Linked DNA regions of Homo sapiens. The protein of the gene in region 3 purifies or fractionates together with the protein of the main gene of each other region. This does not show direct contact. Each region holds a gene or a part of one and is shown on either strand. Other genes may lie near its edges. The genes, in order: GNPDA2, MIDEAS, SNX12, AKR1A1, PTPN23, PPIL3 and SNTB2.

Evidence for each region.
Region 1: the proteins of SNX12 (region 3) and GNPDA2 fractionate together in Homo sapiens (co-fractionation; one large-scale study listed by BioGRID). This does not show direct contact.
Region 2: the proteins of SNX12 (region 3) and MIDEAS purify together in Homo sapiens (affinity purification with mass spectrometry; one large-scale study listed by BioGRID and IntAct). This does not show direct contact.
Region 4: the proteins of SNX12 (region 3) and AKR1A1 fractionate together in Homo sapiens (co-fractionation; one large-scale study listed by BioGRID). This does not show direct contact.
Region 5: the proteins of SNX12 (region 3) and PTPN23 purify together in Homo sapiens (affinity purification with mass spectrometry; one large-scale study listed by BioGRID and IntAct). This does not show direct contact.
Region 6: the proteins of SNX12 (region 3) and PPIL3 fractionate together in Homo sapiens (co-fractionation; one large-scale study listed by BioGRID). This does not show direct contact.
Region 7: the proteins of SNX12 (region 3) and SNTB2 purify together in Homo sapiens (affinity purification with mass spectrometry; one large-scale study listed by BioGRID and IntAct). This does not show direct contact.

What each region holds. Positions count from the first base shown.
Region 1 is NC_000004.12:44,713,057-44,716,556, forward strand, and holds part of GNPDA2 (glucosamine-6-phosphate deaminase 2), read right to left. Parts: intron 1,604-3,500; exon of another isoform or gene 1,540-1,603; intron 1-1,539. UniProt on the Homo sapiens protein: Catalyzes the reversible conversion of alpha-D-glucosamine 6-phosphate (GlcN-6P) into beta-D-fructose 6-phosphate (Fru-6P) and ammonium ion, a regulatory reaction step in de novo uridine diphosphate-N-acetyl-alpha-D-glucosamine (UDP-GlcNAc) biosynthesis via hexosamine pathway.
Region 2 is NC_000014.9:73,750,304-73,753,803, forward strand, and holds part of MIDEAS (mitotic deacetylase-associated SANT domain protein), read right to left. Parts: intron 1-3,500.
Region 3 is NC_000023.11:71,058,747-71,062,040, forward strand, and holds the end of SNX12 (sorting nexin-12), read right to left. Parts: intron 3,222-3,294; coding exon 3,097-3,221; intron 2,373-3,096; coding exon 2,270-2,372; 3' UTR 501-2,269; downstream 1-500. UniProt on the Homo sapiens protein: May be involved in several stages of intracellular trafficking.
Region 4 is NC_000001.11:45,564,326-45,567,825, reverse strand, and holds part of AKR1A1 (aldo-keto reductase family 1 member A1), read right to left. Parts: intron 1,258-3,500; coding exon 1,138-1,257; intron 958-1,137; coding exon 806-957; intron 1-805. UniProt on the Homo sapiens protein: Catalyzes the NADPH-dependent reduction of a wide variety of carbonyl-containing compounds to their corresponding alcohols.
Region 5 is NC_000003.12:47,405,021-47,408,520, reverse strand, and holds part of PTPN23 (tyrosine-protein phosphatase non-receptor type 23), read right to left. Parts: coding exon 3,440-3,500; intron 2,773-3,439; coding exon 2,723-2,772; intron 2,607-2,722; coding exon 2,475-2,606; intron 2,197-2,474; coding exon 2,116-2,196; intron 2,041-2,115; coding exon 1,909-2,040; intron 1,819-1,908; coding exon 1,771-1,818; intron 1,392-1,770; coding exon 1,335-1,391; intron 1,213-1,334; coding exon 1,154-1,212; intron 1,017-1,153; coding exon 937-1,016; intron 825-936; coding exon 710-824; intron 632-709; coding exon 566-631; intron 177-565; coding exon 31-176; intron 1-30. UniProt on the Homo sapiens protein: Plays a role in sorting of endocytic ubiquitinated cargos into multivesicular bodies (MVBs) via its interaction with the ESCRT-I complex (endosomal sorting complex required for transport I), and possibly also other ESCRT complexes.
Region 6 is NC_000002.12:200,872,078-200,875,577, forward strand, and holds part of PPIL3 (peptidyl-prolyl cis-trans isomerase-like 3), read right to left. Parts: intron 1-3,500. UniProt on the Homo sapiens protein: PPIases accelerate the folding of proteins. It catalyzes the cis-trans isomerization of proline imidic peptide bonds in oligopeptides. May be involved in pre-mRNA splicing.
Region 7 is NC_000016.10:69,242,664-69,246,163, reverse strand, and holds part of SNTB2 (beta-2-syntrophin), read right to left. Parts: intron 563-3,500; coding exon 349-562; intron 1-348. UniProt on the Homo sapiens protein: Adapter protein that binds to and probably organizes the subcellular localization of a variety of membrane proteins. May link various receptors to the actin cytoskeleton and the dystrophin glycoprotein complex.

The DNA.
Region 1 (3,500 bases), on a different chromosome or scaffold from region 3:
GGACGCACTTATTAAATAATGGCTGGATAAATGAATGTATGGTTGCTATTCTTTGGTCAGCTCGGTATAGTTTATTCCACCTCCCACCTTGTTCTCTTCTGCCTTGCTCCCCTCACCAGAGGGGCTGGAACAATTTTAATTTCCTATATCCCTCTTAGGTAAAGTGACTGTGGTCTAGAGATAAGCACTTGTCTCAGGCTGAGCCAATCAAAATATCTGTCTGGATCTGAATCTTGACCAGGGATACAGTTAACGAAGACAGCATGGTGAACTGAAGCACTGGATGACAGCACTGCAGGGAGAAGATTGATGAGTTTCTACTTCTGAGATCTGAGGTTCTCTGTTTTTCCAAAGACTTGGTTGTTTTAACTTTTCCTTCAGTTTGTGAGTTACCCTAGAATCATTCCAGTTAATTTACTTTTGATCCCATTAGTTATTTCCTTTTTCTACCAAAGCAAAGAATCCAAGCATGCAACCAAATCAGAAGGTTAACATTTTCTCCACTGTCTTCTTTTATTTTTACTTTTTAAAAACACTATTAGGCCGGGTGCAGTGGCTCACACCTGTAATCCTAGCACTTTGGGAGGCCAAGGCAGGTGGATCACCAGAGGTCAGGAGTTCGAGACCAGCCTGGCCAATGTGGCAAAACCCCATCTCCACTAAAGATACAAAAATTAGCCGGGCATGGCGGCAAGTGCCTGTAGTCACAGCTACTCAGGAGGCTGAGGCAGGAGGATCGCTTGAACCTGGGAGGTGGAGGTTGCAGTAAGCCAAGATCAAGCCACTGTACTCCAGCCTGGGCAACAGAGCGAGACTCTGTCTCAACAACAACAAAAAACCCAAGACACTACTGCGTTAAGATATTTTAAAAGTTTATATATTTAGATTTTATTGTAAAACTAGATTTTTAAAATTATTTATTTATTCATTTTGAGACGGAGTTTCACTCTTGTTGCCCAGGCTGGAGTGCAATGGCACGATATCAGCTCACCACAACCTCGGCCTCCCAGGTTCAAGTGATTCTCCTGCCTCAGCCTCCCGAGTAGCTGGGATTACAGGCATGCACCACCACGCCCAGCTAATTTTGTATTTTTTTTTAGTAGAGACGGGGTTTCTCCATGTTGGTCAGGCTGGTGTCGAACTCCCAACCTCAGGTGATCTGCGCACCTCAGCCTCCCAAAGTGCTGGGATTATAGGTGTGAGCCACCGGATCCCAGCCCTAGATTTTATTTTTAAAAATCCATGTTTGTATATCTTATTGCTGGGGTTAAGTCAGGAATTGCATGATACACCTTTTACCCTTTCTCTGAACACGTTTGCCATCAGAGGAGGAATTAGAACATTTGAGTATGTATTTCCTCCTTTTTCTTTCCCTCTTCCCTCAGAGGAAAGGGACCTCTGCTCTAATTCCCTGGAATGAGCAATAGCAGATTAACATTTTTGAGCTCTTCTCATTCTACTGTTTCCAATTCAAAGGGCAGGAGTGAAAAACCCCATTCTGGCTTCAAGCCCAAACTGCAATCTCTATTTCAACTTTACCTTTAATAAAGCTGATATTTTGATCCCATTTGGCACAGTTCTTAGAGTTTTTATTAACCAAACCCTGGAACAAAAGAAGGGTAGTTGTAAGACCCAGATGCCAATCCTCATCTAAAAATCCAATGATGATAAACCTAGATCAACAAATGAGATTCTTTCATGAATACATATCCAATAATAGGGCATCCCAAATAAGGAAAAGTTCAAAGAAAATGCAATAATCCTTCTCTCTCTCTGCACAATTATGTCCTTTAGATGGTACATATAAAATGTCAGGCATTGGATCATCCATGACTACAGTGAAGATGTTAATGTAAGAGGCACAGGAACTCTCTTAAAATATATTTGGGAGCGGGGAGGAGCGGGGAAACAACTACAGGAAGCTTAAGACAAACTGGTTAAAAAACCAAGTCAAATTCTTTTTAGTGGTGTCAGTGATAAACATATATAATTATAACTTATGCAACATCTATTTCAAAAGGAGAACTGAGGTGGTTTATACTGAAGAAACATAACCCCCTCCCAAAAAAAATTAGCTGAAAAGAAGTACGAAATGATTTAAAGTTATAAGGAAAGAGGAAAGTTCTACCAGACATCTTGGATAAGAATTACAGGCTTAAACATTATTTTATGCTATGAATGCTTTCTGGAAGGCAGGCAAAGGAATAAAATCAAGTGTTCTTATCAGTGTTATTCCCCATAGTAAAATCTATTTCCTACCTTTGGGTCTACAAGAGATTTGTCACATGCATACTTATGTAAGGTCAATAAATTAACAAGGGGGAAAGAAAGTCTACAAATGAAGATATTTTCAAGCAGCCACTTTTAATAATGAACCTCAAACAACTAAGAGCCTTTTTTTGCATTATAGTAAATGAGTGAAAACATTTTTTGATATAAGCAGTTGAAGTATGTGGTACTCCAGTAATTCTACCAGATTTTGGTGTGGAGCTTAGAAAATCTAAAGATTAGATGGTCTATGCACCCCTCAGACACTCTCAAATATCTACTGTCTAGCCTGAATATTGGAAGGTACAAATGGTTAATTATCTCAAAATTGAGTCATACGTACAAAGCAGGAGTATGCAAATGTTCTCTAGGATTACTGAAGTAATATTAGTAAATTTTATTTAAAACAGATAACCTTCTAATTTGAAAAGCAATAGTCTAACTTGGTTTCTTGCTCCAATAAACAACCATTCTATCAAGAAAGTAAATGTTATTGACTCTGCTAGGTAGAAGTAAAAACTATCTTAAAGAGAAGATTTCAGTCTTCCTGGATGTCCCTAGAGGGAATTCGGTAAAAATCCCAAGGAATTCAGTAATTCTAAGGGACAATTATTTCCGCATTTACAGTTGAGAGAGAAAGAGAAGACTGAAGTAGCACTTATGGAGTACCAACTATATACCAAGCACTGTGTAAGGCATTTTATACATGTTACAACATGATTAATTCTCACAAATTTTGGAATGTTTAATATTAATCCTCTTTTACAAATGATGTACCTATACTGAACTTCAATAAACTTTCCCAGGTCATACAGATACTAAGTGGCTAAAACAGGATACAATTTTACGTCTGACTTTAAAACCAAATTTCCCCCAATGATAATCAACTATCTCAACCATACTTGGCCACTTCAAGTATAAATTAACCTCAGGACAGCTCTATTGAAGATCAAATTCATGTAATTTTGATCAGTGTTCTATTAAGTTAATAATAAGTTATATACAGATAATTTACAGCATTAGTATTTTTAGTTGAATATTAAAGAATCTGGCAAAAAATTTTGATTTTAGTTTAGTTGATGTTGAACTATTCTTATAGCAATTAGCTAGCTGTCTGCGATAGTTTACACTGATAATAGAAAACCACGTTGTCATTACAAAGGAAAAAACTTATTTTTAACTGTAGATTATATATACACACACATATATAAATTACAAGTGGAATTTGGTAA
Region 2 (3,500 bases), on a different chromosome or scaffold from region 3:
TGAAATCTACACCGGTGGGCCTCAGAAGGAATGCTACACTTGAGAACTTCACAAAGCCAGCTCCGGAGCTGCTGCTCTTCCCTGGGGGCATTTCCAAGCACAGCATGGTCTATTAACACTCCTCTTAAGAAATTATCCTAGCCCCAGTCAGCCAGAAACAGTTTCCCCTCCAGACTGGGGGTATCTGTAAAAGCCCCTGGAAGCCAAGAGAGCCCAAAGGGTGTTGAGGTATGGGGGACTGCAGAGGTGAGCTGGAGGCTGCAGGCTCAGCACCATCTCACTCTGGAATAAAAGCCTCCATGCCACATGGAGAAAGGTGGCTTGGGCCTCTCTTCAGAGCCAACTGGCAAAGCAGGGCCCAGCTGGGAAAGCTGAACAGATTCCAAATATCAAGGGATGTCAATGTTTACCTACTCCAATTCCTCGTTCCACAGAGCAGTCCAGAGAAGGAAATAAACTCGTCCGAGGACACACAGCCAGGAGCAAAATCAAGGACTCCAATAACAATGCTTCATGCCTCCATTTAGGCAGGCCCCACCACTTGGCAAGACACTGGGCAAAGCATGGAGCCAAGGTTTATCCCAACATCACACAAACAAGGCTTCATCAATACCTCCAAAATTTCCATTGAAGGTGCTACTATGTGCCAGGCATGGTGCTAAGCACACTACACACATTATCCTGTGTAATCATCTCACAGAAAGGTAGATATTATCATTATTATTTTTGTAGAGATGGAGTCTCACTTTGTTGCTCAGGCTGGTCTTGAACTCCTTGCCTCAAGGGATCCTCCCAACTCAACCTCCCAAAGTGCTGAGATTACAGGCGTGAGCCACCACACCAGGCCATCAAGGTAGGTATTATTACTCCTCCTTTCTAAACAAGAAATCTGAGAAGACCTTAGGTCAAATCACTTGCCTAAGGTCACAGCAGTATAGAGGCAAAGCCAGGACTGGCACCTAGGCCTGCCTGTTCTGCAAACTTCCTCCCCCAAGAGTTTCAGACTTGGAGGTCACACCAGGCTGCCTGGGATAGACAGCAGCAGCCTCTGGGTTGCTCACGTCTGCTCCCTGGAGAGCAGCTTCAGCCCCTGAAAACCACCATGATGTTCTGAGATGTGGCTGGTCGGGTAAAGTGGGTGGGAGAGGCCGGGCAGGTGAGTGGCTTTGAAGGTGAAGAGGCTACAGGTGATTACCTCCAGTGGGCCAACCTGTGGAGGGCTCGGCATCTTTGCCTAAGAGGAAGTCACACCCCTTCCACACCCTCCAACCCCACAACTGAGGTTAGCCAACAGCTCTTTAAAAATAAAGCCAGGCCGGATGCAGCGGCTCCCGTTTGTAATCCCAACACTTTGGGAGGCCAAAGCAGCTGGACCACCTGAGGTCAGGAGTTTATGAGACCAGCCTGACCAACATGGAGAAACTCTGTCTCTACTAAAAATACAAAATTATCCAGGCATCGTGGCGCACACCTGTAATCCCAGCTACTCGGGAGGCTGAGGCAGAAGAATCGCTTGAACCCAGGAGGCAGAGGTTGCAGTGAGCCAAGATCGTACCACTGCACTCCAGCCTGGGCGACAAGAGCAAAACTCTGTCTCAAAAAAATAAATAAAGTCTTGGCTCTCCCCTGCTTGTCAGATAACTCAAGTCCCCATGGAGTCTAGGCTCCTGTCCCTTCTCCTGGCACCCTGAGCTCTGGGTCAAATCAGGTCTCTGCTTGGGTTCCCCCACTCAGGACACTGAGCATTAGCCCCCAGCCACAGCCACCCATATCTCCACATGGTGCTCTCAGAGTGTTGCTTCTCCCAATAACTTAACTTCCTAAATAAAATATATTCATCGCACATCCCGAGTAGAGGAGACAGAGGTGCCCACTCACTCCAAAGATCATTTGTCCAAACCTCAATTTCATGGCTCATAGAACCAAGACCTCAAAGGTAAAATGACCTGCCTAAGGACACATGGCTGACTACCTGAGCAGAGCTATAGTGACGGCCTCCCAGGTAGATGTTCTCACACTTAGCACCCCTAGACCTGGCATTGCCAGGTCCTTGACATTCGTCTGGGGGAGGTAAAGCAGGGGGTGTAGCATGTGTGTCAAGCCTACCAAGTCTTCATCAACCCAGGCTCTCCTGACTGGTCAGGGCTGGAAAGGGCCAAGACCCACCTGGTGCTTGGGGGTTGGATGGGTCGGTGTCTGGCAGTGTAGTGTGAGAGTAAAGAACGGGGGCAATATGGCTCCCTAGTACATGCTAGCGACCAGGAAGCAAAAAAATTTGCCACCAGCAGAGGGAGGGGAGTCTCAGTGTGGCTGCCTGGGGCCTCCTAGAAGGGCTGCAAACTGGGCACAGACAGACGCCCATTTGACTCCAGAGCCATCACATCAGCCTCACGCCCTTCCTCAGGCCCTGGTCAAGATGCAAGACTTTTGCCAAAGGCTCACACATTCTTTGCATTTCTCCAGTCTCTGAGCAGCTGCTGCAGGGCCTTTTCTCCTATGTTGATTTATTCTTTATTGTTCCTGAAATACACCCAGAGGCCTTTGGCACAGCATGCGGGCACAGCAGAGCATCCAGCCCAAGCCCCAAGTACACACCAACCAGACTCTCTGGGACCTGGGCCAAGCCAGCTGGAATGATGGGCCCCAGGTCAGACCCAGCAGCCAAGAAGGGAGACCAAAGATTCCACCTAGCCCCAGCCTTTGATTCCCCAGAGCTGTTCTCAGTACCTCAGAGGCTGGGATACCTTTAAGGGGGAGGACACACTTGGGAGGTCCCCAGGAAGCCCACACTAAGCTGAAACCAAGCCTTTCCCCTCTTCCTGTGCATGTGCCTGGCCGAGCAGTCCCCAGGCCCACAGCTGAGTCCTCCACAGAAGGGCCTCAGGGCTCAAGGCTGGGCTCCTGGCTGCCCTGTGAAGCATCTGGAGAGGGAGGCAGCAGGGAGGTCTTCCCCACCCTTCCCAGCCCAAGATATCTCCCCTACCAGCCAGTCTAATGGTGCCTGAATTCCTACTATCAGCACTTCATACCAAGGATCAAAGCATTGTTCCTTGTGCACATGAAAATAGCCGGAGGAAGTGTGGGAGCTGCAGGGTAAAAGTAGTCAGGGGCAATGTGTGCTGGCTTCTCCAATCACCAGCCTCTGTGAGCCTGGGGTTCCCTATTGGTGAATGGGCACAACAGTTTCATCTCAGTTATTGTGGGATTCAATGAGGTAATACATAGATGAAGCGCCGCCTGGCACAGGGTACGCACTCAATAAATGTGTTTCCTGTCTCCCTTGCTGGGTAGGGGTGGCTCAGACATCGTTATCAGTCTTTAACACCTTGGAGGAAATGAATAGTCCAACTCTTCCAGTTCCACAGCTGGCTGAGAGCAAGGCTGGCCAGGCAAGGGCGGGACAGGGAGACTCAAAGTCCTAGCAACAGTGTGGGGCTCTGCAGGCACGCAGAGCTTCCGGCCTACAGACCCAGGAGAGAGAGGTCTGGCCAGAAAGTCCA
Region 3 (3,294 bases):
TCTGCCTGTGTCAAATTTATTTGGGAAAAAAAACAGTGTCAGTTGAGATAAAAAGCCTATAGAAGAAATGTTTGTTGGTGTTGTGTGGGTGTGTCAGAGGATGAACACATGCATGTGTGTTTATGTACATGTATTACATATGCAGACACACACATACACACATACACACACACATATATAATAAATATATTCTGCCCAAATTAGCACAAACCCACAAGCTTAAAAACCAAATCTGCTAAATCTGACTCAAACAACAGGTACTGAGCCTACAGCTACTTCCTGCAAGCAGATGCATTACCTCTGTGACAAAGTCAGTTGTGAGTTGCAAAAAGGATAGGTAAATATCATTAAGATAAGTTAAGATTCTGCTTTCTAAAAAAATTTAAATGCAAAACATTACCTCAGGACACTGGCCACACTGTATGATTTCTGCATAATACCCAGCATATCCTAGACACTAAAGAATACTAAATTTACAACTTAAGCAGGAAAACAGAGGCTTGCTTCACAGTGGTTTAATATGAACAGAGTTGAATATGACATTGTCTGACAGAAGAATGAACAGTTTGCTGAATAAAAGCCCCGAGTCAGGATATATATACACAGCAGAAATGGGGCCTCAGACTCTCAGCACTTGTGCACAATGAAAGAGGAAATCGTTTTTAAAAAATGTCTATAACAGAGGATACAAATCAAAAAGGCAGCAACAACAACATTGGCGAGGTGGGAAAGGGAGCAGAGCCTCTCATTAGGGGCTGCTTAGCCCCTGGCGCAGGCTCAGCAGCTGGAGAGCTGTCTCAGGGAACTTCAACATTTAGATGGGTTCCAAATCCTATGTCAAAATACAATCCTAATCTCTCTGATCAGGGTCAGTCAGAATCAGCAATCCTTTTCCACAGTGCCCTGCATAGAAAACTCCAATCTTTCCATGATAGGGAGTCTAAGCAAAGAGCCCCCACCTCTCACCTGGCACCAAAGTTAACTTACTCTCACCCCACCACTTGGGACAGACGTTGGGCCCCAGCAAACAAACCACCCCCTCCAAGACAGAAACCAGGATAGTTGCCAGCCTCAAGAAGCTGCTTCAAATGTTAAGATTTAGGAAATCCATACCAAGCTGCTATCCATAGTTCAACTTCTGGGGAAAATGCTGGAGTTGCATGAGAAACAAGTGCAGGCAGTTCAATAACCCTGTGACCACGCTGGGGAGGGCAGCAAAAACTCTTGCCCCTGAGCCCCATTCAACAACTCAAAGTGCTTAGGAGAAGTCAGAGACTGTGTGGTTGGTTTGTGTGCTTCTGCCCTGTGGCAGCACTAAATGGGATGGGGGAAAGGAGAATGGAAGGAAGACAGTGTTGATGCCCTTCCCTACCGCGGGTAAGAGCCTAGAAGATAATCCACTCCCACCCTTCAGGGAGTTACCTGGCAGTGGTGAGTTGCCCCCACCCCTCAAGCCACCAAACCTGCAAAGCTAACCCATAAAGTAGCAAGGGCTTAGGGAGGGAGAACTGCTGGCCCATACTGACTCACCAGCTGATGAGCAAAAATAGGCAGCTAGAGTGGGAGCCACAAAGGGAGAGGGGCTAGGCAATAGGAGCTCCCCTACTGCCCTATGGCTTTCTTCTGACTCTGAAGCAGCCATAATGATGGGCCCAGAAAACCCACACACCCTGCTCCATACAACAGACTGCTTGGACTCTAGGAGGATTACTGCCATGGAAAGCAACAAGGGAGAGAGAAAGCAACAAAAGAAACTGTTAAGAAAACTGGGAGCAGGCCTGAAGAAAACAAGGAAAGCTTCTGAGTCTCTACCACCTTTCCAAAAAGGAAAAAATACATGCAGTTAGGAAAGGCAGGGTTTTTCCCTGCTCAGTGTTCTTGGTTAAACCTAAGAGTAAGAAAAATCCCCTGAACTTGCAGCATCAGTATGTATCCAAGTGCCTCACCAGCACAAGCGCCCCCCTCCCCCCAGGTTAGCCTTCTGGCATGGGTAAATGCCCAAGAAATTGCCTTCCAGTCTAATCCCCCCACCCACCCACCCCAACCCCAAGCAAAGGGCATCTGCCTGTGGGTTCCCACCTCTCCTCAGAGAAGAGGATCCTAGCAGAGTGCCCACATGGTGTAGTCAGGTACCAGGGAGCACAATGCCAGACAGTCTATCAGGCCAGGAGATGGGCAGCCAACTTCAGATCAAAGACAGAGAGAGGCTTAGTGTAAAAACCAATGTCATTTCAGCAGGAAAGTAGAGGGCAGGTGGTGAGAGGGGCTCCTACTGGCGCACCTTCCCCGGGACGTAGTTCCTGTCAATTGCCTCCTCTTGCAGGAACATGTGTAGGCAGCGTTCATTCTGAGCCAGTGGGTGCCCAGCAATTCTATAAAGAAACCAGGATGGTTATCAGTAGTATTCAGAATCAGAGAGAATTAGCAGAGGGATGGGGATGTGGACAGGGGAAGAAGGGCAAGGTCAGCCCTGAGGTTCAAGCCAGTAGAGGACAGCAGTAGGGTACCACCTCAACCCTAATATTGTAAAGGGGACGGGGGATAGAGGGGCAAGACAGGGAAATCCCTAGATATAACCAACATGCAGTGCTTTCTCAGGCCCTGACACACAGGATCAGAATCCTACTCAAAGGAATGGAGTTTTACTGTCCAGTCAGCCCACCACACAATTGGCACCACATCATGGTACCCATTATAAAAGGTGAGCTGGGTGCGGTGGCTCACGCCTGTAATCCCAACACTTTGGGAGGCCAAGGCAGGTGGATCACTTAAGGTCAGGAGTTCGAGACCAGTCTGGCCAACATGGTGAAACCCCATCGCTACTAAAAACATGAAAATTAGCTGGGCATGGTGGCCGGCGCCTGTAATCCCTGTTACTCAGGAGGCTGAGGCAGGAGAATCACTTGAACCCAGGAGACGGAGGTTGCAGTGAGCCGAGATCACACCATTGCACTCCAGCCTAGGTGACAGAGTGAGACTCTGTCTCAAATAAATAAATAAGTAAATAAAAATAAAATAAAAGGTGAGGTAAACAAAACATATAGAAAGACTACGATGGCAAAAGTAGCAAGTGGAGCCCCCAGGAACTTGGCTTACTTGTTAATAAACTGCTCGAGGCCCTGCCTCCTTTCTTCGATGAAAGACTCCTCAAAGATCCCTTCATCTCCTCGGAAAGGGAGCTGCCGCTTCAAGGCTTTCCCAGGCAGTGGTGGTACTACAATCTGCAGGCACACACAAAATTCCAGCCACATGGGAGAGAGACAGAGTGGGAATGAGATGGTAAAGCACCGTGTA
Region 4 (3,500 bases), on a different chromosome or scaffold from region 3:
AGATGGAGTCTCGCTTTACCGCCCAGGCTGGAGTGCAGTGGCACTATCTCAGCTCACTGCAAGCTCCACCTCCTGGGTTCACGCCATTCTCCTGCCTCAGCCTCCCCAGTAGCTGGGACTACAGGCGCTCACCACCACGCGCAGCTAATTTTTTGTATTTTTAGTAGAGACGGGGTTTCACCGTGTTAGCCAGGATGATCTCGATCTCCTGACCTCGTGATCCGCCCGCCTTAGCCTCCCAAAGTGCTGGGATTACAGGCGTGAGCCACCGCGCCTGGCCAAAAAAAGCCATGCTTTTTCATCCTTCCAGATCGTAACCCAGGTGTTAAGTTTACATGGAATGCCTATGCCCCCTCCTCTTCCTAGACGTAGATATCTCCTCTCCCCTAGGAAGTCTTCCTTAACTCATCCTCAGGGAGTTATCCACCCTTCTTCCAGCACAGGGCACGGCACTAATGGTGAGCTCTTCTCACATCTTCTGCTGAGACTTACTTATTACTGTAACCCCAGGTGCTCAACAGAAAAGTCAGCACCTTTTCTAAATGAATAAAGGGAGCAGGAGGGTTACAGGTGCATACCCTGGGGTACACACCATGTGAGACTGCCTTCCTTTTTCCAGAGTTAAACTCCTGTAGCTACAGCTAAGCTGCTGTAGCAGAAGAGGCTAAGATCCCATGTCAAGCTCCTCAGCTTGGCATGCAAATGAGTGTTCCTATCCTGCTCTGCTGCTGTGACTTACAATAAGTTACTAACACCATCCTGCTCAACCCCCTGATTCCCCAGATGAGGCTCTGGCAAGGCTCACTCAAAGGCATAAGGCCAGTGCATCAGGTACAGGTCCAGATACTCCAGCTGGAGGTCAGCCAGAGTCTTCCGGAGGGCAGGCTCCACATCCTCGGGGTGGTGCTTGGTGTTCCACAGCTTGGATGTCACAAACAGCTCCTCCCGAGGCACCGCCTAGTGCAGGGGGCAGGGCCCACAGTGAGAAGAGCCATGAGCACGTGGTCTCACCCACCCTCAACTCTGGGAGAGGAACTGGAAGGAAGCTGATGCCAGATTCCCTCCAGCTGGGCCCCAGCCCTAGCTTCAGCTTCTAAGTTCTCTTATCCCACCTCTATTTACAACCCCAGTCCTTACCTTGCCTGGTCCCACGTCCTCCTTCAGGGCCTCCCCAATCTCAGGCTCATTGCCGTAGATAGCAGCACAATCAATGTGGCGGTAGCCTACGCTAAGGGCATACTTAACAGCTGCTTTTACCTGCCAGGTGAGAGAAGCAGAGGTTTCAGCTATGTTGGTTTCAGCCTTCTACTGTCACCACCCCAAGGTCAATGCTGGGGGAAGGGGGCTCAGAAATATAACAGGCACATCTATGCAGTGGAGGTGAAAAGATGGAAGATGAACTGGGCGCGGTGGCTCACGCCTGTAATCCCAGCACTTTGGGAGGCTGAGGTGGGCAGATCCCCTGAGGTCAGGAGTTCGAGACCAGCCTGGCCAGCTGGAGGTCAGCCTGGCCAACATGGTGAAACCCCATCTCTGCTAAAAATACAAAATTAGCCAGGTGTGGTGGCAGGTGCCTGTAATCCCAGCTACTCAGGAGGCTGAGGCAGGAGAATCACTTGAACCCAGGAGGCAGAGGTTGCAGTGAGCTGAGATTGTGCCACTGCACTTCAGCCTCGGCAACAAGAGCGAAACTCCATCTCAAAACAAAGAAAGAAAAAAAAAAAGATGGAAGATGGTTTCAGTCTAAGGGACCAGAAGCCTCTTCAGAGGCTCCAAACCCTTTGCTCTGCTCCCACCCCAACCAGTCTCTAAGATGCCTTCCTACCCAAGCCATCTCAGCAAGGTCTAGCAAAAACTAACAATATTTTCCCGGCATCTACCATAAAGAGGGCTTCAGTAAATATTTTTTCAGGCTGAGCACAGTGGCTCACGCCTGTAATCCTAGGACTCTGGGAGGCTGACATGGGAGCATTGCTTGAAGGCAGAAGTTCAAGACCAGCCTAGTCAACATAGTGAGACCCCCACCTCTTTAAAAAAAAAAAAAAAATTAAGGCCAGGCGTGGTGGCTCACGCCTATAATCCCAGCACTTTGGGAAGAAGAGGCAGGTGAATCACCTGAGGTCAGGGGTTTGAGACCAGCCTGGCCAACATGGTGAAATTCTTTTCTCTACTAAAAATACAAAAATTAGCTGTGCATGGTGGCATATGCCTGTAGTCCCAGCTACTCAGGAGGCTGAGATAGGAGAATCGCTTGAACCCAGGCGGGGGAGGCTGCAGTGAGCTGAGATCATGCCACTGCACTTCATCCTGGGCGAGACAGAGTGAGACTCCGTCTCAAAAAAACACAAAAAAAATAACAACAAAAAATTGAAAACAAATTTTTTTTTTTAAATAAAAGCCAGGCGCGGTGGCTCACACCTGTAATCCCAGCACTTTGGGAGGCCGAGGTGGGTGGATCACCTGAGGTCGGGAGTTTGAGACCAGCCTAACCAACACGGAGAAACCCCGTCTCTACTAAAAATACAAAATTAGCTGGGCGTGGTGGTGCATGCCTATAATCCCGGGTACTTGGGAGGCTGAGGCAGGAGAATCGCTTGAACCTGGGAGGTGGAGGTTACAGTGAGCCAAGATCATGCCATTGCACTCCAGCCTGGGCAACAAGAGTGAAACTCCTTCTCAAAAAAAAAAAAAAAAAAAAAAAAATGGCTGGGTGTGGTGGCTCACGCCTGTAGTCCCAGCACTTTGGGAGGCTGAGGTGGGTGGATCATGAGGTCAGGAGATCGAGACCATCCTGGCTAACACGGTGAAACACCGTCTCTACTAAAAATACAAAAAATTAGCTGGGCGTGGTAGGGGGTGCCTGTAGTCCCAGCTACTCAGGAGGCTGAGGCAGGAGAATGGTGTGAACCTAGGAGGCGGAGCTTGCAGTGAGGCGAGATTGCGCCACTGCACTCCAGCCTGGGCGACAGAGCAAGACTCCATCTCAAAAATAAAATTAAATAAATAAATAAATAAATAAAAATTTAAAAATTTTCAAAAATAAATAATTTTTTTTTTCAATCAGAAGACAGATGGATAAATAGAGAAAAGAAGTATAGACCATGGAAACAAGTTCCAGGTTCTAAGGAGCTGGTTAGAGAAACACAGGAAAAAATTCCTAGGCCAAGGACATACAGGGAGTTGTGTAGACAGACTCTGGGAACTCTGGGAGCACAGGCCAGCAAAAGAGGTTAGAAGGGGGAAAAGATTAAGGAAGGCAGATAAGTAGGCTGAAAGCTGGAGGCAGATAAGTGGGCTAAAAGCTGGACCCAGAACTCCCTAATGAGAGAGAAGAAAACAGGCATCAGATAGAAGGATGGGTCAGTTAATTTTGCTAAAATCCAGACTGGAAACACGGCATCAGCAGCAGAAACAAGGGTACCCGGCCCTAGACACAAAGCACCCAAAGCTCTTGTTGTGGGTGCCTGACATAGTATTCAAGATCCCCACCCGGGTGCCGA
Region 5 (3,500 bases), on a different chromosome or scaffold from region 3:
TTCCACCTGCTTGCTCTGCCCCTTACTCACCTTGCATGGACTGTACAAGGTTCCTGACAGTGTCGGGCCGGACGCTGAGAGCCGCGCACTTCTCCATGAGCTGGGGTGGGATGTGGCTGTAGGCATCAAGGTTGTCCACCGTCTCGGGATCCAACTGCATTGAATCCATGAACTGGCTGTGGGGAGCAACAGGGCCAGGTGGGTGCTGGGTGCTGATCCAACTCTGACCATGTCAAAGGAGCCGCTAGGGCAAGCCTCACCACTCAATCTGAGGTCTCAGCAGAGAGCAAATTGTGACCTCGGACCCCTACTACCAGGTCTGGCCTGGTCTCACAGAACATGCCCAGGGCACTGCTGGAAACAGTGGAACAGAAGGCACCTCCTCCTCCCAAGACATGACTCCTGCCTTACACACTAGCCCCACCACCCCAGGCGGGAAGGCAGCATTGGGAAACCTGTTTGGAATGGACATTTCATTCCTCTCCCAGCATAGGCAGCCCTGGGGCCCCCAGAGGCCCGGGAAGTGCTGCCTGCCTCCGCCTCCCTGCCCAAGTCCCACACTCACTCCAGGACCTCATTCTTGTCCTCAATCTTGGCCATCATCTCCCGGAGCAGCTTGGCCTTCTCCTCACTGCAGAAGCGACAGAGCATTTGCTGAAGACCCACATCTCAAGACACCCCACCTCCCTCTGTGCCACCCTCCACCCACCTGTACAGTGACGAGGCCTCGTGGGCAGCCATGGGTACCAGTTTGGCAAAGATGTCAGGGCCTGTAACAGCTGGGTCTGTGGGGTTCACTGGCAAGGGCTTCACCAAGGGGGCTCCTGGGGGGGTGGGAATTGTGGAGATCAGGCCCACGCAGAGTCCTTGAGGCAGCCTCCTGTGTCCTGTCCCCACCCCACCGTCACCTCTGCCCCCACCTCTCAGCTCCCCGACCTTTTACAGGCTGAAGAGTGTCCAATGCTGGGACAGCCTCATGGTAAATGAAGTCGTTGTCCTTCTTGGCAGAATTGTACCTGGGGATCAGGAGCAGGGGGAGTGGGCAGTCACGGGGTGTCAGTGGGGATCCAGAACCTACTTCCCATGTAGATGCCAGCAGAGGGACAAGACCCTTCACAAAAAGAGGGAACCAGGGCCACCCCCACAGACTCACTTTCCCCCAATGACATCCATAGTGAAGCGAAGCGCGTCTTGCACAGTGTCAGGCTGGCCCTGTGGGGTTAGGGACAGGGGTGGGGCCTTAGCACTAACCAAGGCTGGCACCAGGACACCCCCTCAGTCCTACCGGGCTTGCTCCTATACCCTCAGGGCAGCCAGGCCTTCCTCAGCTTTACCTTGGCCAACTTGATGGCTTCATTGAGCTTGTCCAGGGCGCTCTGGAAGTATGCAACCTGTGGAGGGTGGCAGGAAAGCCTGCTCTGTCCTCCTCTGCTTGGACCCTTTCTCCTCCTGCCTCCCACCCGGCCCTGCCTGTCCATCAGATGACAAGCAGCTCAGGAGGCAGCCGGGCACCACCCCAGCCAACAGCAGCAAGGTGGCGCCACACCCTGCCCCAGCCACCTGCTCTGTAGGGAGCCTGCCCCACCTCCTCAGACCCCGAGGGACGAGGGCTGCACAGATGGGACAACACTTAAGACACCAGGCCTCCAGCAGGGTGATGGCCAGGGTGAGACAGAGAAGGCCACCCCCTGGTGTGTAAGGAGCGGGAGCACACCGGCATCTCACTGAAGGCTGCCATTGGTCCCCAGTCCCCTCCTCGCTGTAGCTCACCCGCTCCCCGAACTTCTGCTGCTCCTCGGCCTGCTTTCCCATGTGCAGCTGGGAAAGAAGAAGAGACGCCACGACTTGCTTCCTGAGCTGTGGCCACTCAGCCCCGCCCTGCCCCGCCCTGGGGCCCCAGGCCCTCACATGAGCCACGGCTGCGAAGTAGTAGATCTTCATCTGCACAAGTTTCTTCCAGTCCTTCTGGATCCGGCCCAGCAGTGAGGCAGTGTCGGGGTTCTCCAAGGCCCGGCATGCCTCCTTGTAGTAATCTACCACCTGAGAACAGGGTGGGGCCCAATGAGTGGGGGAGTCAGCAGTAAAGTGAAGGCCTCCCCTCAGCCCCGTCCCTACCTGTGCACTGATGCGGGCCACCAGAAAGCTCTTCCTGTTGTCCAACATCGACTTCTCCAGGAGGCACTCCTGAGCCTGGCCCTGGGGCGACACGTGAGGTGCACTCCCTCGCTCACCCAAGGCCTCCCGCTTCCCCTTCCCTTTATCCTTCCCCAGGGGCAGACTGAGGGATCCCTCTTCACTGCCCTCTCCCCCAGCTGCCCCCACTCCAAGCAGCACCACGGTGCTCCTGATTCAACAAAGCCAAGGCCCCTTGCTTGTCCCTCACTGCCTTGGTCCAGGATCCAGGCCCAACTGCCCCCTCCCTGGCCATCCCCTTCCCTGGATTCAACTCCACTCCAACCAGGGCGCCTCCTCACCAGCATGAGGTTGACGTTGAGCGTAAGGATCTGGCGGCTCATGTCGACGCTGTAGGCTTGAGGGAAGTGCTCCCGTAGGTAGGCGAAGGCGCCGGCTGCGCACTGGAAATGGGTACAGGAGACCTTCATGCCCTGGGAGGGAGTGGGAGGATGGCCTGTGTCCACTCCATGGGTCAGGATTCATCCATACTTGGGAGGCTGCCCCTCCCTGGTATGTCCACATGTTCCACTACTGCCCCTCTCCTCACCTCCTCAGACACCCGCTTGTCCATGGCCCCCAGCATGGAGTGCAGCGCTCCTGGGGAGGGAGGGGACAGTGTTAGGGGCCTGGGGCTGCTCACACCCATGTGAAGGTGAGACAGAGGGGGCACTGCTGTTATCCACAATCAGGACAACATGGCTCTGAGAACCAGGGCAACGAGTCCAAGGACACCCAAGCTGGAGGGAACAGGGAAACTCAGAAGTCCTGCCCAGCCCTCAGTCTCCTGCTCTGCATTTGGCAGAGGATGGAAGGGCTCCTGTCCAAGGGGTCCAATCTTGAAGCTTCAGGGATGTTTGCACAGAACTCTGGGGCTCCCCAAGCTTCTCCCTTGAGCCAGGCTAAGGCTGACTAGCAGGGTAAGCTGAGGCCAGCCACACTCTCCTCCTGCCTGAAGCAGCCCAAAACCACAGTGGGGAGGGGCTGTCCAGTCAAAGAAGAAAGGCCCTCTCTCCCAGACAGAGCACACAGTGGCAACTCTGTGTGGCAGCCAGCCCAGTAGAGCCTCGCCCCAGCAGAGGCTCCCCACGGGCCCAGCCCAGAAAACAGTGGAGGAGCTGGCAGGGCTGTGGGGAGGTCAGTGGAGGGGCGGGAATCCTGGAGTCCTCCCTTTATCAGCCCACTGCCTTTGTGGCCATCTGAAGAGCTGAAAGCTAGGCTGGCAGGACTGGGGAGTAGGGCCGGGGGAAGGGATCAGGCAGCTCACCAAGGTTGTAGAGAATACAGGCCTGCTCGTACTTGATGTCCTCATGGGCCACAGACTTGCC
Region 6 (3,500 bases), on a different chromosome or scaffold from region 3:
TACCACTTCGGATGCCAGTTCCAAGTCCCGATTGTGATCTGTACTATCTGACTAACCATGATATAATTTGGGATTTTTCATGCCCCCCAGCTCTGTTCAATAATTTTCAAAAATGGCTCATAGAACTTAGGAAAGCACTTTATTTATTACTATGGGCTATTATAAAGGTTACAACTCAGGAACAACCAAATGGAGGAGATGCATAGGGCAAAGTCTGAGAGAGGGGCACAGCGCTTCCATGCTCTTCTCGGGGTGTGTTACCCTCTTAGTATCTACTTGTGTTCACCAACCTGGAAGCTCTCAAACCCTGTTTAGGGTTTTTACGGAGGGCACATTAGGTAGGCACGATTAATTAAATCACTGGCCACTAGTGACTGGAACTCAATCTCCAGCCCTTCTCTCCTTCCCAGAGGTCAAGAATAGGAGGTCACTGAATGTTCCACCCCTCTAAAAATACATGGCTGATTCCTCTGGCAACCAGCCCTCCATACTGAAGCTATCTAGAACCCCACCAAGAGTCACCTCATTAGCATAAACTCAGGTATGGTTGAATGGGGTTTATTATGAACAATAAAATATTCCTTTCACTCCTGTCACTCAGGAAATTGCAAGGTTTTTAAAAGAACTATGCTGGAAACCACGGATGAAGTCCAAATATGTATGTCTTATTACAACACACTAGTCATAAAGATTTCTTTGCTACAGGAAATACATGGAGAAAGTATGTAGATGACACTATTAGCAATACTGCCCTACAATGAGAGTCCTAAAGTAGGTGACCACTCCACTTTGTACTTGTTTTTTTTTTTTTTGAGATGAAGTCTCGCTCTGGTCCCCCAGACTGGAGTGCAATGGTGTGATCTCGGCTCACTGCAACCTCTCCTCCTGGGTTCAAGCAATTCTCCTGCCTCAGCCTCCCAAGTAGCTGGGATTATAGGAGCCTACCACCACGCCTGGCTAATTTTTGTATTTTTAGTAGAGACGGAGTTTCAGCATGTTGGCCAGGCTGGTCTGGCCTGACCTCAGGTGATCCGCCCGCCTTGGCCTCCCAAAGTGTTGGGATTCAGGCATGAGCCACCAAGCCCAGCAGTTAATTGTTTAATTATAGTATTTCTTTCTTTTTTTTTTTTTTTGAGATGGAGTCTCACTTCCATTGCCCAGGTTGGAGTGCAGTAGCACTATCTCGACTCATTGTAGCCTCTTCCTTCAGGTTCAAGCAATTCTGCATCAGCCTCCCAAGCAGCTGGGACTACAGGCACATGCCCCCATGCCCAGCTAATTTTTGTGTTTTTAGTAGAGATGGGATTTCACCACATTGGCCAGGCTGGTCTCAAACTCTTGACCTCAAGTGATCTGCCCACGTCAGCCTCCCAAAGTGCTGGGGTTATAGGCATGAGCCACCACGTCTGGCCTAATTATGGCATTTCTACTTTTTGCTTCTGGATAACAACAAGAAGTAATAAAAATAGGAGAAGAGAAGACTGACAGTTAACAGCCTCCAGCAATCCCACTTCATGTTACCACCAAGAAAAAATATATTGAGAGCTATTCTTCAAATACAAGTTTTGGAAATTTCAGTCTAAAACATTTGCTAAGAAAGAGTGGCTTTTGATCTCTTGACCTCGTGATCTGCCCGCCTTGGCCTCCCAAAGTGCTAGGATTACAAGCGTGAGTCACTGCACCTGGTCATCTGACTGCATTTTGACTGCAACCCGTCACATGAGGTCAGATGTGGAATTTTCTACTTGTGGCATCATGTCAGTGCTCAAAAAGTTCCTAATTTTTAATTTTCAGATTAGGGATTCTCAACCACTGGTATGTACTTTAAAAAATTAACAGATTTGTAGGCCTGGCGCAGTGGCTCACGCCTGTAATCTCAGCACTTTGGGAGGCCAAGGCGGGCGGATCACGAGGTCGGGAGATTGAGACCATCCTGGCTAACATGGTGAAACCCCGTCTCTACTAAAAATACAAAAAATTAGCCGGGCGCGGTGGCGGGCGCCTGTAGTCCCAGCTACTTGGGAGGCTGAGGCAGGAGAATGGCGTGAACCCAGGAGGGTGAGCTTGCAGTGAGCTGAGATGGCGCCACTGCATTCCAGCCTGGGCGACAGAGTGAGACTCTGTCTCAAAAAAAAAAAAAAAAAAAAATTAGCAGATTTGCATTTTATTTTGCATTTTCACAAAATGGGTACTTCAACCAAAACATTTTGATTTTACCCCTAAATATAGACATTTAAGTCTTTAAATTATAAGTCTTAAAGGCTATCCCACCTTCTAGGTCAGTAAGAGAAACAGAGGAGGTAGAAAACATAGGTCTCAGGTAAAAAGTTAAAAAAACCCAGCAGGTAGAACTGAGGCAGTTAAGTAGAGTCAAGTATATGGGAAACGGACCCCTTGGAGAACTAGAGGAAAGTTACTGGATCATCTTCCCAGAAAAATGTGTGTGCATCTGTATACAACAAACAAGGAATTAATGAACCTAAGGTTAATCTTTGTTCTAAACTCTACAGTTTTGTCGCAAATCCAGTAAAATGAGTCCTGGTAATAACTGAACAATAATTTTGAATGATGTTGGTTAAGGGAGAAAATAAGAGGGAAACTGGGTTATTTACAAACATAAAAAAACTACTAGATGTTGTAATATTTCTTTTCTCCTTGATTATTATTAATGTGTAAATTAGATACATGTATATGGAATGAAAAAGAAAAGATCTGTCTAGATCTCACTGCAGCCTTGACACCCTGAGCCCAGCAATCCTCTCACTTCAGCCTCCCAAGTAGCTGGGACCATAGGTGTGAGCCACCACACCTGGATAATTTTTAAATTTTTTTGTAGAGACGGGGTTTCACTATGTTACCTAGACTGGGAGTCCTCTATTTTTAATTAACCTAATTTGGCATCCAAACTATTAAATAGAACAAACTCTAGAATTGTGCCTTGGTTTATTAAGCATGATAATTATTTGTTGAACGAACAGACAAATTGACTTCCCACTGATTTATAAAAGCAACTCCCAGACATAGTACTCTTAATAGATACCCTGGCAGAAACTGTGAAATACCTTCCTAGGAGCCATTCTTCTTACTCGGAGAAATCTAATTTTAGTAAGGGTGGCAATGTGGCTGAAATACATTTTCTACCCTCCATTGTAGGTAAGGAGTGGTCACATTACTAAGTTCTGGGTCTTCTGGGAAAGTTTTTTTTTTTTGAGACGGAGTCTCGCTTTGTCACCAGGCTGGAGTGCAGTGGCGCAATCTTGGCTCACTGCAATCTCCACCTCCAGGGTTCAAGCCATTCTCCTGCCTCAGCTTCCTGAGTAGCTGGAATTACAGGCACGCACCACCGCACCCAGCTAATTTTTGTATTTTTAGTAGAGATGGGGTTTCACCATGTTGGCCTGGATGGTCTTGATCTCCTGACCTCATGATCTGCCCTCCTTGGCCTCCCAAAGTGCTGGGATTACAGGTGTGAGCCACCGCACCCGGCTTTTCTTTTTTTC
Region 7 (3,500 bases), on a different chromosome or scaffold from region 3:
TTCAATTATAAAGTAATACATATTCATAGTGAAAAAAGTAATAACAACATTACAGAAAGACATAAAAGGAAGAAAAGATGCCCCCTCTTTCTTTCACCCCTTTAGTCTTATTTGACACCCTAGAGGTAAAGCCATTAACAGTTTCTTGTGTGTCTGTTCAAAATTTTTTCTACACATATACATGTATATATGTAGAATAACTTAAAATGTGGAACCCCAAAAATGCATCTCTCACCTCAGACAGATGTTTTCCTCTGTATAACTGAGTTAACAGAGTCATATAATACTGCAACATGTCCTTAAGTTTGTAAAGCTGTAGGTATGATGTTCTTGTTAGGTACACCTCACCTGTTTTCCAGATCCGGCATGCTTAGGTTTCTAGCAGCAAAGCACATTTTGAGAGGGATGATCTTCCTGTCCTTGGTGCTGTTCTGGTGTTTTGGCGAACCAGAGTCCTCACTGCCACTAAAGCTTGGTGACTGGGGGGCTGCACCTTCCCACGGCAGATCTGATACTAATGATGGCTTCTTGATATATGGTGTTACTTCTCGGATGAACTTGACTATGAACAAAAAAATCAAAGAAGAAGGTTAGTAATTTTGCTTCCTATAATAAATGATAACTAAAGTATTCACATACATGCTATATCTATAACAAAGTGGAGGAAAGAGCTGGGCGCGGTGGCTCACTCCTGTAATCCCAGCACTTTGGGAGGCCGAGGCGGGTGGATCACTTGAGGTCAGGAGTTCAAGGCCAGCCTGGTCAACGTAGTGAAACCCCATCTCTACCAAAAATACAAAAAATTAGGTGAGCGTGGTGGCATGCGCCTGTAGTCCCAACTACTCAGGAAGCTGAGGCAGGAGAATTGCTTGAACCCGGGAGGCGGTGGCTGCAGTGAGATTGTGCCACTGCACTCCAGCCTGGGCGACAGAGCAAGACTCTGCCTCAAAAACAAACAAACAAACAAACAAACAAAAAATGGGGGAAAAAAGTAAGTTAAAGAGCCATGAATCCCCTGGAGATAGATTCTAAGACAGACCCATCTAGGCTTTAGATGATTCAACCTTTAGAAACTTCTCCATACTTCTACCCACTGGTTCCCTGTCTTCTCAAGCCATATAGAACAAACTTAATCTCTCTTCTACATGAGAACTCTGTAATTATCTGAAGACAGATTTTTCTCTTCTCTCTCCTCCCCATACTAAGCTAAGTATTTCTATTTCCATTCAACTCAATCAACTTTTATTAGCTACCTACCAAGTGTTGGGAATTAGGCTAGCCAGTAAAGACACAAGGGCAAATGAGCCATGGATTCTATCCCTCAAGGAATGCCCAGCCTTGCAGGGGAGACAGCTATGTAAACAGGCCATTACAGTTCTTAAAATCAAGTGCAAAAATAAAGTATATTCAAGATAAGGTATGATCTAATAAGCACAAAGCCAACTCAACTGATCCCCCTTGCTTGTTCAAAATACTCTATTTCCATTAATGTGGCCCCAAATGAAAATCAAGCTTTTAGTAGATAGGAAGCTTTTTTAAGTTCAAATTTAAAACTCATAAAATACTTGTTTTACTTCAGTCATGACTACAATTACTGTCACTCGAGGCATGGTGTTCTTGTTTCAAAAACTAGACAAACTGGCTGGGCACAGTGGTACACACAGTTTCTCCTGTGAATAGGTAATACATGCACATAAAACAAAACTCAAGAGGTATAAAAGGTTTTATAATAAAAGTCCAGATTTCTAGCTACCCTGTCTCCATTCCTAGAGGCAACCATTCAAAGAGATGCCTGGTATGCTAAGCATGTATGAAAATAAACACATACACATGCGTGTATATCTGATCATACATATGGTGGTACATTATGCTTACCGTGCTGCACCTTAGTTTTTTTATTTAATAAGGTTGATAGTCTTTTATAGGCCTAATAGTTGATAGCTCATTCTACAGCATGATGTGGTCATAGAGATGCCTTTGGAATCAAGAAGACCTTGTTCAAATCCTAACTGTGCTTGCTATTCAAAGCTATGTGACCGCACTTAACTGTTCTGAGGTCCTCATCTACAAAATGGGAGTAACACTAAGCAAATAAAAATTTCAGGCACATACTAAACATTCAATAAATACAGTAGGTACCTTTCTTTTTCCTTCCCTAAATTAGAAAGTTAGAGAAGAGTTAAAAAATTTTAATGGTAATCAGTAGAAGAGTTAAAGTTATTTTCTTATACGTTATTAAAAAAGATTTACTGAAATTAAGTATAATAATAAAAAATATAACAATTCCAATGCTAGAATTTAGATGTAGTATATCTCTGTGCTTTTTGTGCATAGTTATAATACACGTGCTTCTGGGTAGCTGCCTCAGGTCACCAAGGAGATTTTTTTACCCTAGAAAAATCAGCAGGAGTGCAGTCAGTATAACCCTTGAGCAGCTGACTCAAGCATTTCAATACATACTTCAGCTTTATGCTTTGAAGGACTTTGGCAGAAATTCCTAAGGTTTCCAGTTACTGCAAATGGCAGAGGCATGCTTTTTGAACATTTAAGGCAGTACACTATTGGGCTACCAACTGGAGGAAATTAAAGACATTCTAAATGAATTCTTGAATAATATAGTGGTTAGAAAAGAACCCTTAACGATCTACTCAGTTCATTCAATCACACAGTAGCATCACTGAACTGATTACTACACACATCCTAAAACAAAAACAGACATACACATACAATTTATGTATTGCCTTATTAAAAGAGCAATGAATTTTATCTGAGTTGATGGCAATGCAGTCCATACCCCCATCTAATTAGCCATCCAGAATGGCTGAAGAGCTGTGGATGGACATCTGTTTCTATGTTTGGGAATGGCAAAAAGTTAACAGTCTTCTGTTTCAGTCCTATGTTAAGGCCTTAACCTGGACACGTGGCTGGATAAGCAGAGCCTTTACACCCCCACATGGAGCTTTCAGTTCAACTCAGAATCCACAACATATTTCAGAATCATTTCATTTTTCCTGATAGTTGAAGATAATCCTCAAAATAATTTAATTAAACACTGATGTTTACAAACTGTTTTGAGTGTTCAGATGCTGAAGCTAATTTTCTTTCTTCCATTCATGTATCCCTTTTTTTTTTTTTTTTTTTTTAAGATGCAGTCTCACTCTGTCGCCCAGGCTGGAGTGCAGTGGCACAATCTCAGCTCACTGCAAACTCTGCCTCCTGGGTTCACGCCATTCTCCTGCCTTAGCCTCCCCAGTAACTGGGACTACAGGCGCCCGCCACCACGCCCGGCTAATTTTTTGTATTTTTAGTAGAGACGGGGTTTCACCGTGCTAGCCAGGATGGTCTCGATCTCCAGACCTCGTGATCCACCCGCCTTGGCCTCCCAAAGTGCTGGGATAACAGGCTTGAGCCACTATGCCCGGCCTCACGTATCCCTTTTACTGAACGTGAAGGTGGGCTTCCTCCCACCCCAAAAGCATTACTGTGATCCCTTCTCTTCT